Linked DNA regions of Homo sapiens: region 2 is linked to region 1. Evidence: fine-mapped expression QTL. Tissue or cell type: whole blood. Region 1 holds a variant in brackets; the other region holds the start of a gene. All regions are shown on one strand. Distances are between the middles of the regions.

Region 1 (8,185 bases):
CAGGTGATCCACCCACCTTAGCCTCCCAAAGTGCTGGGATTACAGGTGGGAGACACCGTGCCTGGCCCAGGAAAGCCTAATCTTCTAGGCCTCAGTTGGCCCAGGAATGATCCTCTCAGGCTACCTCCTCAAACTCTCAGAGAAGTTTGGCTAGCTCCTTGTTAAGCCATTCCTTTACTCAACAAATATCTTTTGAAGACCTACTATGTGCCAGGCACTCTTCTAGAAGCTGGAAATAAAGTAATAAATACAACAGACAACACATGTGGCCTCACAGAACTTATAATCTAGTGTTGAAGACAGATAATAATAAGACATATTAGTAAAATATAAGAGACTATTTTAGAAAGACTGTGCTAAGAATACAAAATAAGAAGGAACTTCTAAGAAAATATTGTGCAAGAAAATAAAGAAAAAAAATAAGGATGGGTAATATAAAGCGTTCATGGGATTGTCTGTGGCCAGCAGTGGGGCAAGACAGGTATTTTAGATAGGGCAGCAAGGGAAGACCTCGTGACTTTGGAGTGAAAATGTGAAAGAAGCAAAGGAATTAGTCATGGGGGTGTCTGCAGAGAGAGCATTTGGGGGAGAGAAAACCACAAACGCAAATATGTCAGAAGTGAGCCTGGCATTTTCAAGGGGCAGCAGGAGGCCACGTGGCTGGAGCTGATGCCCAACAGGGAGAGAACTAGGAGGCTGGTCCTGGTGTCCTCGGTCCTAGTTGATCACACAGCCTTGTCAGTCATGATGGACTCCTCATGAAAAGGAGGGCAACTTCTCTGAAGCTCTTATAACAACTTCTCATCAAAGGCATCTCTCACACAAGCAATGCGCTGCCCTACTTTGCTATTCTGGACCTTGTCATCACATCATAAGCAGGCGATCCATTATCCGTACTTACTAGGCTCTACTGGAGTTCCACAGCCGGCACAGAAAAAATTCTGGGCTGCCACCACAAGGTCCCTCCTGAATACGAAAAATAATACTAGTTACATTTCAGAGAAGGCCAATGGCACATTTTTCACTAATTAGAAAAGAAATTGCCATCGTGATACTTTTCTAACTAAGGGCCTTAACTTTGTCACTTTTCATTTGGGAAAGAAATAGATTTATTCAATACAATTTTCTAGTTGAAATCCCTGGGTCTTTTAAAGCTATGACTAATTTTTTTTATTTTTCATTTTTTTTCCTGAGACAGGGTCTTGCTCTGTCACGCAGGCTGGAGGGCACTGGCATGATCATAGTTCACTACTGCCTCAAACTCCTCGGCTCAGCTCAAGCAATCCTCAGCCTCCTGTGTAGGTAGCTAGGACTACATGTACACGCCACCATGCCCAGCTAGCTTTTTTTGGCTTTATTTACTTTTTTTTTTTTTTTTGGTAGAGATAGGGTCTCTCTATGTTGCCCACACTGGTTTCGAACTCCTGGCCTCAAGTCATCCCCCTACTTCGGCCTCCCAAAGTGCTGGAATTACAGGCATGAGCCGCCGTGCCCAGCCTTAAAGCTACATCTCTTTAAAAGCTTCTGCTAGGCTGGGCACGGTGGCTCACGCCTGTAATCCCAGCACTTTGGGAGGCTGAGGCAGGCGGATCACGAGGTCAGGAGATGGAGACCATCCTGGCCAAACCCTGTCTCTACTAAAAATACAAAAAATTAGCCGGGCGTGGTGGTGGACACCTGTGGTCCCAGCTACTTCGGAGGCTGAGGCAGGAGAATGGCGTGAACCCGGGAGACGGAGCTTGCAGTGAGCCAAGATCGCGCCACTGCACTCCAGCCTGGGCGATAGAGTGAGACTCCGTCTCAAAAAAAAAAAAAAAAAAAAGCTTCTGCTAAAACCAAAGCAGAAGTCAGCGTCACTGATAACTCCAAGGGGTTTTTAGGGAGGTCTCGATGCCCGTGTACAGGGTTCCAGCTCCAGAGAGAACCAGAGACATGTTATACAAGGAAGACAGCTCAGGGAGGCCATACACCAAAAGATGATGCACTTGGGAAATTCACAAATGGATCTAAAGAAATTTAGACGAATAAGAGGTAACGTAAGACAAAGAAATCAAATCATTTCTGGTAAGAGATATTCCATTCCATTGAGGAATTTTCTTTCTTTTTTTTTTTTTTTTGAGATGGAGTCTTATTCTGTTGCCCAGGCTGGAGTGCAGTGGTGCAATCTCAGCTCACTGCAACCTTCACCTCCCAGGTTCAAGCAGTTCTCCTGCCTCAGCCTCCCAAGTAGCTAGGACCACAGGCATGCACCACCATGCCCGGCTAATTTTTGTATTTTTAGTAGAGACAGGGTTCTGCCATGTTAGCCAGGCTGGTCTTGAACTCCTGACCTCAGGTGATCCCGCCCACCTCGGCCTCCCAAAGTGCTGAGATTACAGGCATTGGCCACTGTGCCCGGCCTGAGGGATTTTCTATTGAACTGTTTATCCCATAGTTTTACATGTGACTTGGAAATACCAAGGAAATTGTAAAATTTGTTTACAGTTCAGGATCAGCAAAAGATGGCCAAGGTAAAAATATGCTAAATCTCTGCCCAGGTGCCATAGTGAGGACCTAGGAAACCCCTAAAGAAAAGATACCCCAGGCTAAGGAAAGCAACCTCTCACGATGCCTAGACAGGGAGTTCTGCCCAAGCAGCCCCACAGACTTTCTTGGCATTCTCTCAAAAAAAGAAAAACAAAAGAAAGATCTAGTCTATAAGGCACCTCCGTGGGGCAGAGTCAACCTCTCTCCAGTCCCTTGGGCACAGTCAACAACCCTCACCGGTCCCTTTGTAATGCTTGGCAGTTTGCACACCAAATTGAATACAAACCAAGAGGGATGGAAAAATTATACTTGGTTAAAATGTTTTGTGTATAATCTTTGATCATAATCTGTCCTATAGTCTCGGAACAAATTACAATTAAACTATTACTTTAAATTTATAGGTTTATTTCCTTTTTTGCATAATCTTAGTTGTTTTGTCTTTTAGAACTTTTGTTACTTCTTAGAGAACAAACATATTTTTATTTACATTTTGTTACATTTCTTTTGTTGGTTTTGAGATCGAGTCTCGCTCTGTCACCCAAGCTGGAGTGCACTGGTGCAATCTCAGCTCACTGCAACCTCTGCCTCCTGGGTTAAAGCAATTCTTGCTCCTCAGCCTCCCGAGTAGCTGGGATTAGAGGGCTGCACCCACCACACCTAGTTTATTTTTGTATTTTTAGTAGAGAGAGGGTTTCACCATGTTGCCCAGGCTGACCCCAAACTCCTGACATCAGGTGATCCCTGACCCCAGCCTAGGCCTC[C/A]CAAAGTGCTGGGATTATAGACAGGTGTGAGCCACCGTACCCGGCCTCTGTAACATTTCTTAACTATAAGTGCTTTCCCTAAGATTAAATGTTCCTTTTTTAGAAGTTTATTCATTCATTTTTATTTCACACTGATTGTTCTGGAAGATAAAGTGGTCCAGTCTTTTAAAATTATCATAGGCTGAGCGAGGTGGCTCACACCTGTAATCCCAGCACTTTGGGAGGCTGAGGTGGGCAGATCACTTGAGCCCAGGAGTCCAACACCAGCCTGGGCAACATGGTGAAACCCCATCTCTAATTTTTTTAAAAAGGAAACACATTTTAAAAAATTATTGTATATAATTTTTAAGTTTTGATATTAGCCACTTTTAAAAATCCCCTTTAAGCCTATTTAATTTTCAGTTGCTACGCAATATTGACAATTAGGGTTGCATAGCTGAATTCTCAACTTGTCAAAACTTACAGAGCCCCCAAAAGTCCATGGTAAACAAGAGGAAAAAAAAAAAAAACCTAAGCCAGAAAATACAGCCAACTTTCCTTTCCCTAAAACAAATTTTCCTGTGTTCTTTAGCATATGTATTTTTTTCACCTACTGCCATAGAGTCAGGTGGGATCTGTCACAATGTGATTTAAATGGATTGGAGGCCCAAGCAACAGCCCATACTTACTTGAGTGGTGGATGAATATTAAATATGATTTGAAATCTAGGAGGAGCCCAGTCTTCAGTCCCTCTGATCCTAGACTTAAATTTAATTTCCTGTACTACATTCATACTGGATTCAAAGTCTTTTCGGACACACTCTTCATTTACGACCTGCATAAGACATAAAATGATTTAGGAACAACTTAAGCATATTTCAAAGAATTTAAATTAAAGAAACATCTAAATGTATTTCCAACATTAAAATTTACCATGAAAAATTAACAGTGCTTTTAACTGAACTAAAGGGCATACCAAGAGCCCTCCACATCTCTAAAGCCATCTGCAAGAGAATTGCTTTAAACACCACCCAGATGAGATCACTTTTCTTAGTATTTTTAGTTCATTTATTTCCAGACTTCAAATTTACTGTAAGTAGGTCATTTTGACCTGGAATGCATTTATGAATAGCAGAAGCCTCACCCCTCTTAGTCAACAGACTGACAAATGCTACCAATCAGAACCCCTATCATTATTAGTCTTCCCCAGAAACAGCTCTATTAAGACCTTTCCCCTTGCTTACAAATGTTCAGTGCCTCCCCGCTGAACCACTGGACTTTCCTACTGTCATTTAAAATCCAAACTTCTCAGCTGGGTGCAGTGGCTCATGCTTGTTTTCCTAGCACTTTGGGAGGCCGAGGTGGGTGGATCACTTGAGGTCAGGAGTTTGAGACCAGCCTGGCCAACATAGTGAAACCCTGTCTCTACTAAAAGTACAAAAGTTAGCCAGAAATTGCTTGAACCCAGGAGGTGGAGGTTGCAGTGAGTCGAGCTTGTGCCACTGCACTCCACCCTGGGCAACAGAGTGAGACTCCATCTTAAAAAATAAATAAAATAAAATAAAATAAAATCCAAACTTCTCAAATTAGCATTCTACATCCTCCACAATTTGGCTACTATCATTCAAACCTTATTTCCATAAAGAACAACCTCTCAGACACAAATACTCACAAACGGGTATTATCCAACCGCAGCGAATCACTCTGCTCAACGGCATAGCATGCCCCTCCACTTTTGCTGCAGCTCCCCTTTGCCAAGAACGTCCTCCCCCAACCTTTCTACCTGCCACAGTTCTGGCCAGCCCAATACTTAGCTCAAGTTCTGAAATCTGCAGTCAGCCTTCCTAAGTTCCCCTGGTAAAATTAAACACTCCTTCCTCTGCACTTCGAGGGCATTTTCCCTACCCCTGTTTTAGCCTTTGTCATAATGTTCTCTACCCTCAGAAGGCTGCTTGCTCTCTGACAGCAGTGAGCAGTGTGTTCCATGAGGGAACCAACATGTACTTTCCAATGAGGCAGCCTGGGCATGACTCCTGCTTCACAGCTGACCAGCCCTGCTGGGAGGCTGGGCCCACCACTTAAAAATAAAAATAAGGACAGCCTCTACCTAACAGGATACTTATGAGGATTAAAATGTGGACTGCTGGCCGGGCACGGTGGCTCAGGCCTATAATCCTAGCACTTTGAGAGGCCAAGGTGGGCAGATCACTTGAGGTCAGGAGTTGGAAACCAGCTGGCCAGCATGGTGAAACCCTGTCTCTACTAAAAATACAAAAAAGTTAGCTGGGCGTGGTGGCGTGCGCCTGTAGTCCCAGCTACTTGGGAGGCTGAGGCAGGAGAATCGCTTGAACCCAGGAAGCGGAGGTTGCAGTGAGCTGAGATTGCGCCACTGCACTCCAGCCTGGGTGACAGAGCAAGAATCCGTCTCAAAAAAATTAATAAATAAAATAAAATAATGTGGACTGCTGAGCACAGTCTCTGGTACACAATAAGTACTCAACACATGCCAGTTTCCTCATTCATTTTGAGTCTCCCCTAATATCCAGTGACCATACAAGGAAAGACAAATGTTTAAAGTGAACAGGGCAGGCAAAATGAGGATTTAGGAACTTTCAATTCAAGGTCAATTTTTTTTGATACTTACTATCGAGCCAGCTGCACTCAGGGAACCTGCCAGCTGAGAATTAACTACTGACAGTATCCAGCACTTCTGGAACACGCGGTACAGCTCTTTGGCTAATAGTTCTGCAGAATTGAAGTCTGGCTCATAAGTGACACTGAAATGTAAGAGATGCAAATACTGGAAAACTATATTCATGAGGAGTATGTTCAGGGTCTTCCTGAGGTTTTCAACTGTTCTTCCCAGCCCCCAAAACTCAGAAGAGGCTGTCATATGAGATGACGCATGAATCACTCACCAGGCATCTTACTCAACATGGCTCCTGCATGTTCAATAAATAAAGCATCTTTTATTTACTGAGGGCGCTAAGACTTAGAGGTGTGGTGAAAGAGCACTGGCTTTAGAGTCAGAAGACCTGCATTCAAGCCCTACTTCTACCTCACAGCCTTCGTGTCCCGAAGCACATCCTATATATGAGTCTCAATTTTTATGTCTATAAAATGAGGTTTAAAAATACATAAATATATGGTCGGGCATGGTGGCTCACACCTGTAATCCCAGAATTTTGGGAGGCTGAGGCAGGCGGATCACCTGAGGTCAGGAGTTCAAGACCAGCCTGGTCAACATAGTGAAACCCCATCTCTACTAAAAATACAAAAAAAAAAAAAAAATTAACCAGGTGTGGTGGCAGGTGCCTATAATCCCAGCTATTCAGGAGGCTGAGGCAGGAGAATTGCTTGAACCCAGGAGGCGGAGGTTGCAGTGAGCCGAGATTGGGCCATTGCACTCTACCCTGGGTGACAAGAGCAAAACTCGGTCTCAAAAACAACAACAACAAAAACATAAATATACACACACATGCATACATAAAATTCACCCAACCTGTTTAACTGAAATGAGGATTAAATGAAAATGCATACAAAAGCCTTTTATATATTGTAAAACACTATAGAAACTTTGGGGGTGATTGTTTCATTTCTAGGTGATACTCTCCTAGATTCATGGGAACAAATCACTGGAACTAGCTAAAGTGGGCCCAGAATGTCAGAGGCCTAGGTTTCACACTGCCTCAGAGGTGACAGCCCAAGGGTCTATGTGCACTGTGCACAGAAGACAGATACCTCTTAGAGGAGCTGCAGGAACAGCTACAGGTTTCTGTGATATCATTAAAATCTCCAAGCTCTGTGGGAAAATAAAAGAAAGAGTGGTGAGGTCTTTTAGTCTGTTTCATTTAATCGCAGTCCATTTTATAAGAACACTAAAATCACTCCCTGCATCTCAGAAAGAGCAAATTATTCAGCATCTCCATGCTTCAGGTTCTGAGAAATGGACAGAACAGATAATGAGAGGACAGATAATGATCAAAGATGGGATTTCATCTGAAATTTCACCAAAATATAACTGAGAGGCCAAAGAGATATCCGACCATAATGAATATCTGCTTTTTCATTCAACTCTACAAGTGAGATGAGAGATTAGCTATCCAGACATTTGAAACAAGAACATCATATATATATATATAGATATATATATATATATATATATATATATATATATATCAGGGCCATAATCTGATTTTGGAAGAAGTTGGTTTGAATGCCACTGTAACGTAATGTTGTGTGTGATGCATGTTAGTGTGTGTATGCGGATGGGATTGGGGAGGCAGCCAGTCACATCCAAACAGTTTCCAAATCTTACCTAAAATAACAAATTCATCAACATCGCATTTGCAAATCTCTTTCACATCATGGTAAGTACGTGTTTCAGTCACTGGGCTGACCTGTAACACAGCACAACCTAGACAAAGAAAGGAAGGAGGTTTTTACCAATAAGAAGAAAAAGAAAAACTGTACAACCTGCAACACCCAACTAAATAGAAATTGGGAAATGAAGAGGGCTAAAAGTTTAAGAGAATTAAACATTTCAACTTAAAGAATTAAAAAACTGGGGAACTATTTGTGTGTTCTTTTTGCACTCACTATGATTAAGTGCCTGTAGTCCCAGCTATTCGGAAGGCTTTCATCACAAAGAAGCTATCTGCAGTCCATCCAATGTTTTAAAATATTGAAACACTGAAAGCATCTAAACGTTTAATAATAGGAAATTGATTTTGCAAATCACACGATTAAATACTATCATTTAAAAATGTAAATCTGCCAGGGGCAGGGGCGTGCACTTGTAGTCCCAGCTACTCAGGAGGCTGAGGTAGGAGAATCACTTGAGCCCAGGAGTTCAAGTCCAGCCTGGGCAACATGGCAGAACCCCCGTCTCTACAAAAAATACAAAAAAATTAGCCCAG
Region 2 (8,185 bases), 28 kb after region 1:
AATGACCAAGACCCAGGAGGCCCAGGCTAAACTAATTTAGCCCTAATTCTACAAGCACAGCGGTGAACAGAAGATCTTTAAATCTTGTGGACTCAAATATCTCTTCAGAATATTAATATTCACACAGCATGCAGCAGACTGCCTATACCTTGGCAATGCTAATGACATTGACATGTCTACCTCCCTGAGCCCAGATCACCATAAAACCAAGCCTAAACTAAAAGTGAGCAACCAAAAAACCCCCAGATTTTTATATAAGTCATGGGACGAATAAAATGATTTAACAATTGAGCCATATTTTTAAAAATACTTGCAAAATATGCATATAGATAAGTGCTAGTCCCTTCACTTAACAAACTTAAAAGTCCCATGCCAAAAACTTCTAAGAATCATTTCCAAGTAAATACAGAGAGAATAGGGAAGTGCCCTAAACATATTTTTGGAATTCAGTTCTTTTCTGATCAACTCTAGCTTGTCGGAATAAAAGAACGTAAAAAAGTATAAGAAGAATACATTTCTTTATAAGAATAATACAATACCTTTGAATACAATTCTTCTTATACTTACTCTATAATTGTACTTACTCTACAGTTTTCTGCAAACGTACTTACTCTACAATTTTCATCATCTAAAATCAACCAGCAAACAGTACCTGCTTACTGTGGGTGCTTTTCAACGTTACCTGTTAAAAAAAAACGTTGAGGTCTAATTTACATTTACTTCTTTTAATAAATATAAAGCTAAGGATCATTGGAATGAATGCATTTTTGAACAATTTTTCAACATAATTGTTGGAAAAATCACATTAAGTGTATAGTTTATTCTAACTTCTATTCATTTTCCAGCCTACTGATGACAAAAAGGCTTGAATCTGAAACTTTTCTTTCTACACTCTGAGAAGTATTTTACCTTTACGGAGCAGACTTTGGGCTCAGTAGAAACAAAGGATTCATTCAATGTAGAATTATTATCATCATTTTACGGGTTAGAAAAGGAAGTAAAGTGATGACCACATAGCCACTCAGCAGCATGCTCAAGTCCAAACCCTGGAACCTTGTCCATAGCCCCTAGTCTCACCATCCATGTTGCCTCCGTGTGTGGGATAAAAGACAATGCAAAAGTTAAAACACTCGCACACACAGGACCCAATTAAATATAATTTTAACGCCAATCTGAGAAAAATGACTTATTAGCTGTGTGATTTTGAGCAATGCTCTTAACCTCCCCCATGAAGGATGGTGTGAGAACGAACAGAATTGTAGCACGTGTATCAGTCTGGTACACAATGTCCTATGAAGGTTAGCTTTATTATCACCATCATTATTATTGCAGAAAGACTTTCAGTTCAGAATAAGACAGCACAGTTACAGAGACCTGGTTTTATTTTCCAGCTTCTTAACTGAGTCATCTTTCAGCTCCTTTTAATTAAAAAGAAAAAACAATCAGAGATCTAATTGGGTATCAGGAAGATACACAATATGACTAACAGGCACTAATATTACTACACTTATAGTCTCTGGAAGGCTGGACATACTTATCCAAGAACTGCCTAAATTTTTACAATGACACACCATGCTAAATCTTCCATATTAGAAATTCCATATTTCTCTCCATACTAGAAATAATCGTTCCATATTAGAAATAAGAACGTAGATTTGGTAACAAGGGAAACTATTCAAATTTGCCAGTGCTATTATTTGTGTGCCTTCAGATGGGTGGGGAAAAAATGTGTCAGCAAGCAATGCAGCCTTTCTTTAGTTTTTTACTTATCCTCTAAAGATCATGCAAAAAAAAAAAAAAACCAACAAACGTTTACTCTTGGATGTTTAACCTTGGCTCCGACAGAATGTTCCTTGTATCAAAAAACAAGAACTCAGCCAACAATGTTTTTGTTGTTAAACGGTTGCATGAAGACTATGTCCAGTCAAATCTAACCCCTCACCCCGCTCCAAGGCTATGACCCTCAATTTTCATCAAAGTTCCTACCATCTCCCACTTTGTAAAGGCCCTAAAGAAGTTAATGAAGAAGGCAAAGTTCCTGTCCTCTGCTGTCACTCAGTAATGAGCAGTTTCATGTGGCAGTGCAGAAACTGGGGTTTGAGAAACAGAGGTGTCCTGACACTCTGGACCGGTAATCACGAAAACCCCAGCACTGCCATAAAGATGCTGTCTTAACTCGGCTCCAAACAAAGTTCTGTCGGCGGCCGGCAGTGTTTCAGTGGGCAGCAATGTGGTGATACCTTCACAGGATACTTTATAGGCTTCAAAACACTTCCCTCCCTCCAGGCCATTAACCTTCTAAACCACACAGTGGGGTATGGCTGGAGTATTCTCCCCCTGAGGCAAGGGAACTGAAGTTCAAGAAGGTTTCTTGACTTGCCAAGATCTCCCCGCTACTTTGGCTTTAAGAAACTGGGTCTAAGAAACTCAAGCTTACGGATTCTCTGTTCTCTGCGCGCTCCCACCACATCTTCAATTCAAAGATCCTTCCAAATTCCACAGAAATAACCCAGTAAGGGCAGCTCTTGAGTATACCTTTTCCTTTGAGTCTTAATTTTCACTCAAGGCGAAATAACCCCTCCTCTGAAAGTTCTCCACGTTTTCCAAGCGGACAGCATCAAGTTCGCAGGGGATCTGTATCAGTCTCAGCAGGTGGACTTCACAAGGGGCGGGTTGGGGGAACGCCCGCCTGACCGTGTCCGGCGTGGCGGGGGGTTGGGGGCGAGAAGAGTGGGGGTTGCTATGTAGGGCGCCCGGACCAAATAACACGCCGCGATTTCACACTCCAGCCTAGCTCAGTTATGTAGCCAAATGTTTTTCTGTCACCACATATCCACGACTTTGGCTGTGTTGAGGACGAAAACAGAGAAAAGACACTGATCCCAGAACACTGCGCCTGGGAGGACGCAGGGCGCAGGCTTTGTAGTCTCTGAGAATCGCCCTGCGTAAAAGTGTCCTGAGGTCCCGCTTCTGCGCCCTTCCCGGCCCAAGCCGAACACAGGGTCAACCTCACTCTACAAAGTCAACCGGATAGAAATCCGCCACCCCGCGAGGAGCCCCTTCCTACTGTCTCCAAGGGGTCCCCGACACTGCTCTGAGCGACCCTAAGATACCTGGGTGTCTCTGCTGGGCACAAACCTCTCTGGCGCCACTTCCACCATCCAACCTCTCCCGCGGCCCTCCCTTCCCTTTCTCCAACCACCCTCTCCACCCCGCGCCGCTCCCATCTCGCCCCCGGCCCCGCCAGCCTCACCCAGCCAAACCCGAGCGGTGGAACGCTGCGCTGGGTAAACGCCGCGCGTCGGGTCCTCCCTCGCGCGGCTCCGGGCAGCGTTCCGTGGCCACCGCGCTCCCGGTAACAGCAGAAAGGGGAGGGAGGAGAGCTACCGAGGAGGGGACAGCGACGCCCCGACGCCGCCACGCCCCCCGCCTCCCACACGGGGGCCACCGTAGCTCTCTAGAAGCTCCTCAGGGAAGCAAAGCGCCGTTCCCGCCGCAGGCACCGAGACGTCGCCCAGATGGAAGAAACTCTGGAGATGCGCGCTCCTACACCGGTGCCGCGGCGCCCGGGCCCAGCACCACGCACCTATGCGCGCCTCTGCCGGTCCTCCTAGAAATCCCGCCCTGCCTACCCGCGGCGCGAGACGCAACGACGCTTTCAGGGGTCAAAGACCTGGCAGAAATGACTTCCCAACCCCAGATGCCCCCAGCAGCAGTATTTAGCAGTCATACAATTGCCTGAAATGAAGAATGAGTAATCTGGATGAGTCGGCCCTGAAATCGACCTGCAACTTACCCGGAACGTGAGCTGTCTCTCTCTGACCTCTGCTGGCTGCTTCACCTGGAGTCTGAGTCCGACTCATGTAGCACTTCACTGTCCGCGTTAGTTTAGCCTTCACTGTCAGCAACTCGTCACCTTGTCCTCTTGCAGCGAAGGTTTGGAATCCCATCACGGGTGTGCAGTGGTTAGTCCTGAGATCATGGTGGTGCTAGGAGAACCTGCCAACCAATACAGAAAGTTGTCACGAATAGAAACCTAAGCTCTGGCCGGGTGCGGTGGTTCAAGCCTGTGATCCCAGCACCTACTTTGGGAGGCCAAGTCGGATGGATCACTTGAGGTTAGGAGTTCGAGACCAGCCTGGCCAACATGGTGAAAGCCTGTCTCTACTAAAAATATAAAAATTAGCCGAGCGTGGTGGCGGGTGCCTGTTATGCCGGCTACTAGGGAGGCTGAAGCAGGAGCAACCCGGGAGGCGGAGGTTGCAGTAAGCCGAGATCGCGCCATTGCACTCCAGCCTGGGCGACAGAGCAAGACTGTCAAAAAAAAAAAAAAAAAAAAACAGAAAGGAGAAGAAGGGAAGGAGGGAGGGAGGGAGGAAGGCAGGCAGGCAGGCAGGAAGGAACCCAAGGGAGGGAGGGAGGGAAGAAGGAAGGAAGGAAGGAAGGAACCTAAGCCAAGGAAGGAAGGAAGGAAGGAAAGCAAAGAAAGGAAGGAAGGAAGGGCGAAGGAAGGAAGGAATCTAAGCCAAGGAAGGAAGGAACCTAAGCCCAGGAAGGAAGGAAAGAAGGAAGGAAGGAAGGTAGAAGGAAGGAAGGAACCAAAGCCAAGGAAGGAAGGAAGGAAAGAAAAGTAGAAAGGAAGGAAGGAAGGAAGGAACCTAAGTCCCAGAAGGAAGGGAGGGAGGGATGGAGGAAGGAAGGAAGCTAAGCTCTCTCTCGCGGTGCCCTGACTTCTCCCGGGGAAGGACCTCTGAGCTGCCTGCACTGGTAATGACACGTAGGTGAACCGGTCCTGGCTTTCTTAGAAGATTCCCTGCTGCATAAAACCAAATCCCGTTGCACTTTCCTGGGTTCCTTGGCTTTGTCCTTTGTCATTTCCAGGATGGAGCAGAGGCACTGGTAATTTGGCTTTTACTTGCCTGGTACCTCTGGCATGGAGTGGCTAAACGGTGGCACCATGTACTAGTTGCTGCCATCTTCAGATAAAATATTGAATCAATATGACAAAAGTCAGATGAATACTAGCTGCCAATTACCCTGCTTCCCTTGGGGGCAGCCTGTTTGGAGCATAGACCAGCTTTGACCTGCAAGAACTCTGGATATTTGGAATATTTAAAATTCCAAATACAGTATCCCAGGAATTCAGGTCAGCTGAAGGCCGATTGGGAAGGGCTTACCTTAAATGAATCAGAAAGAAAAAGGTGTGGGTGTGTGCTAACATTTTTTGAGTATCGGCTATGTGCCAGGTACTTTTTCTTATTATTTTAAGCAAGTCTGTGAACATCCCTGAGAATAACAAATCATTTGTTCCCATTTCGCAAGGGGGAAATCTATGACTTAGGTTCAAATAACTTGCCCAAGGTCACAGAGCTAATAGGTAGCACAGTTAGGCTTTGAAGGCAGGTGTATCTGACACCAAACCCTATGTCCAATTTCCACCATACTACCAGCAAGATGGAAGAATAATGAAATAAAGGGACCAGGCAAGAGCCAGTTTCAGGAATACTTAAAGGGAAAGAGGAGTCAGGAGGAACTTAGAGAAAGAATCTTGAAACAAGAGGAAATGTCATGCCAGGTAAATCAGTGAGTCAAAAACCAGAAACAGCTGTACTAGTTGGCAGACTGGACATAGTCCAAGGCAAGAAAATCGTTTTTGTAGGGAGATTAGGATATTTTGGACCAAGATTGTGGGCTTTAGTCATCCCCTCTGAAGCCACTCTGAAATCACCTTTCTCAAAACTGCCATAAGGCAGGCCTAGGCACTATCACGTGGACATCCTACTAACTCTGAGTATAGACCTTCTACATCTCGTCACAGACGCAGGAGGTTCACATTCTGAAAGAGCATCTCTAGGACTAAGGAGAAACATTCAAGGACAGGTTTTTCAAGTTAGGAATGCTCACTGGAAATCTGCTCTGTCCCCTCTGGGATCTGGAAGTAGAATTTCCCAAGCACTAAATGCTGAGGCGTGGACTTTCCAAGAATTTCCTGATTGGTTAATTCTGAGAATGTCACTGATCATTACAGACGGATCACCATGCAGGAAAAGGAGAGGCTGGTTTGGGTTTTTTCATGGGGAAGGTGAACTTCCAGATCACAGTGCCCTCCAAGACACAGGGCTTGAAAGTCATGAGTGTCAGGGACAACTCACTGTGTCAGCTAGCCCAGCCGGGCTCATGCCCAGCACCCATTGATCACACACAAAGCTCCATTGTGGCCAGGATAGCCTCATAAAAGACCGAAAGCCTAGCAGCTGCCTGCCAAAACCCAGCCAGGCTTCACAAGAAGTGATTTGTGCTGTGAGCAGAGCTTTGACCCCAGTTTTGAACTCAGCTGACAGTCAGCAAAGGGGAAACCAGTCTCTGTACAAAACAGGAAGGAAATGAGATGAAATGAACTGCATTATAAGCTACCAGAGGGTGCCTAATGGCATCTTCACCACATAGAAGTCCCAGGAAGAAAGACTGATGATTTTGCATGGGAGAGAAGCCCAGACAAGCACCAGGGAAGGAAAGAACCGAGGAAAGCTGCATTTGGCTTGGCTGTTTCTCTTCCTCCTTGCCTGACTTAACAGCCACTGTCTGCAAAAGGACACATCTGTGTGAACCCACTTGCATGAGGAGCCTAGAAGAGACAAATTCATAGAGACAGAAAGTAGAACAGAAGTTGGCAGGGCCTGGCAGGATGGGGAATACAGAGTTATTGCTTGATGGACACAGATTTTCTGTCTGGTTGATGAAAAAGTTCTGGAGAGAGATTGTAGTGATAGTTGCACAATGCTGTAAATGTACTTAATGCCACTGAATTGTACACTGAAAAATGGTTATGATAATACATTTTGTTATATTTTACCACAAATATTTATGTGTATGGTGTATGTATATATGTATATATTATTTATATATTTTATATATACATATATATGTAAAAAATATAAATGTATTATCATGATGTAATACTTCTTTGGAGTAAAAGCCCAGGTGAAAGCAATCAGCTGACAGGGCCCCTACATCTGGAAATTCTTCACTTGAATTTTTGTTCATTTCTCTTTTTAATTTTTATTTATTTATTTTTGAGATGGAGTCTCACTCTGTCACCCAGGCTGGAGTGCAGTGGCATGATCTCGGCTCAGTGCAACCTCTACCTCCCAGGTTCAAGCAATTCCTGTGCCTCAGCCTCCCAACTAGCTAGGATTACAGGCATGCACCACCACACCCAGCTAATTTTTGTATTTGTAGTAGAGATGGGGTTTCACCATGTTGGCCAGGCTGGTCTCGAACTCCTGACCACAGGTGATCTGCCTGCCTTGGTCTCCCAAAGTGCTGGGATTACAGGTGTGAGCCACCACACCCAGCCTTTTTGCTTTTAATTTTTTTTTTTTGAGACAGGTTCTTGCTCTGTTGCCCAGCCTGAGTGCAGTGGCATGATCATGACTCACTGCAGCCTCAACCTCCCAGGCTCAGGTGATCCTCCCACCTCAGCCTCCCTAATAATTGGGACTACAGGCAAACAGCACCACACCCAGCTAAATTTTTTAAGTTATTTGTAGAGATGAGGGTTTCCCTATGTTTCTCAGGCTGGTCTTGAACTCCTGGGCTCAAACAATCCTCCCACCTTGGCCTCCCAGAGTGCTGGGATTACAGGCATGAACCACTACGCCTGGCTCTATGAATGTTAATAAATCTTTGCCAGGCATGGTGGCTCACACCTGTAATCCAAGCACTTTGGGAGGTGGAGGTGGGTGGATCTCTTGAGGTCAGGAGTTCCAGACCAGCCTGGCCAACATGGTGAAACTCCACCTCTACTAAAATACAAAAATTAGCTGGGCATGGTGGCAGATGCCTGTAATCCCAGCTACTTGGTAGGCTGAGGCAGGAGAATCGCTTGAACCCGGGAGGCAGAGGTTGCAGTGAGCCAGGATAGTGCCACTACACTCCAGCCTGAGCAACAGAGCAAGACTCTGTCTCAAAATAATCAAATAAATAAATAAATCTTAATTTATTTTTCTTTCCATTTAGGGGTGCCCAGGGCCCAGCTTTTGGGTTGTTGCAGCTCCTTATTCAGAAGGAAGAGTAGTTCTGCCATTTTACTCTCTGATCCAGCTGGTGTTAAGTAGCTGGGGGTTTGTGGTGGCATAGTCAGAGATGTGGCCCTAAAAGGGACTCTTTACCTTTGAGGACTAAA

Evidence for each region. PIP is the estimated chance that this variant, and not a neighbour inherited with it, causes the effect.
Region 2: RUBCNL starts here. The variant in region 1 is fine-mapped to the expression of RUBCNL in whole blood (TOPMed, PIP above 0.99).

The regions. Positions count from the first base shown.
Region 1 is chr13:46,355,531-46,363,715 of GRCh38, forward strand. RUBCNL (rubicon like autophagy enhancer) reads right to left here. Exons shown (of 15, transcript NM_025113.5): 6 at 7,585-7,683; 7 at 7,008-7,068; 8 at 5,911-6,043; 9 at 3,956-4,101; 10 at 902-966. Among named protein-coding and RNA genes, the nearest start is that of RUBCNL, 28 kb to the right of the region's middle. The variant C/A (reference allele first, on the strand shown) is at 3,288.
Region 2 is chr13:46,383,881-46,392,065 of GRCh38, forward strand. RUBCNL (rubicon like autophagy enhancer) reads right to left here and starts at 3,372. Exons shown (of 15, transcript NM_025113.5): 1 at 3,254-3,372. RefSeq lists enhancers at 3,139-3,228, 3,609-3,888, 3,919-4,018, 4,039-4,148, 5,912-6,051 and 1 more.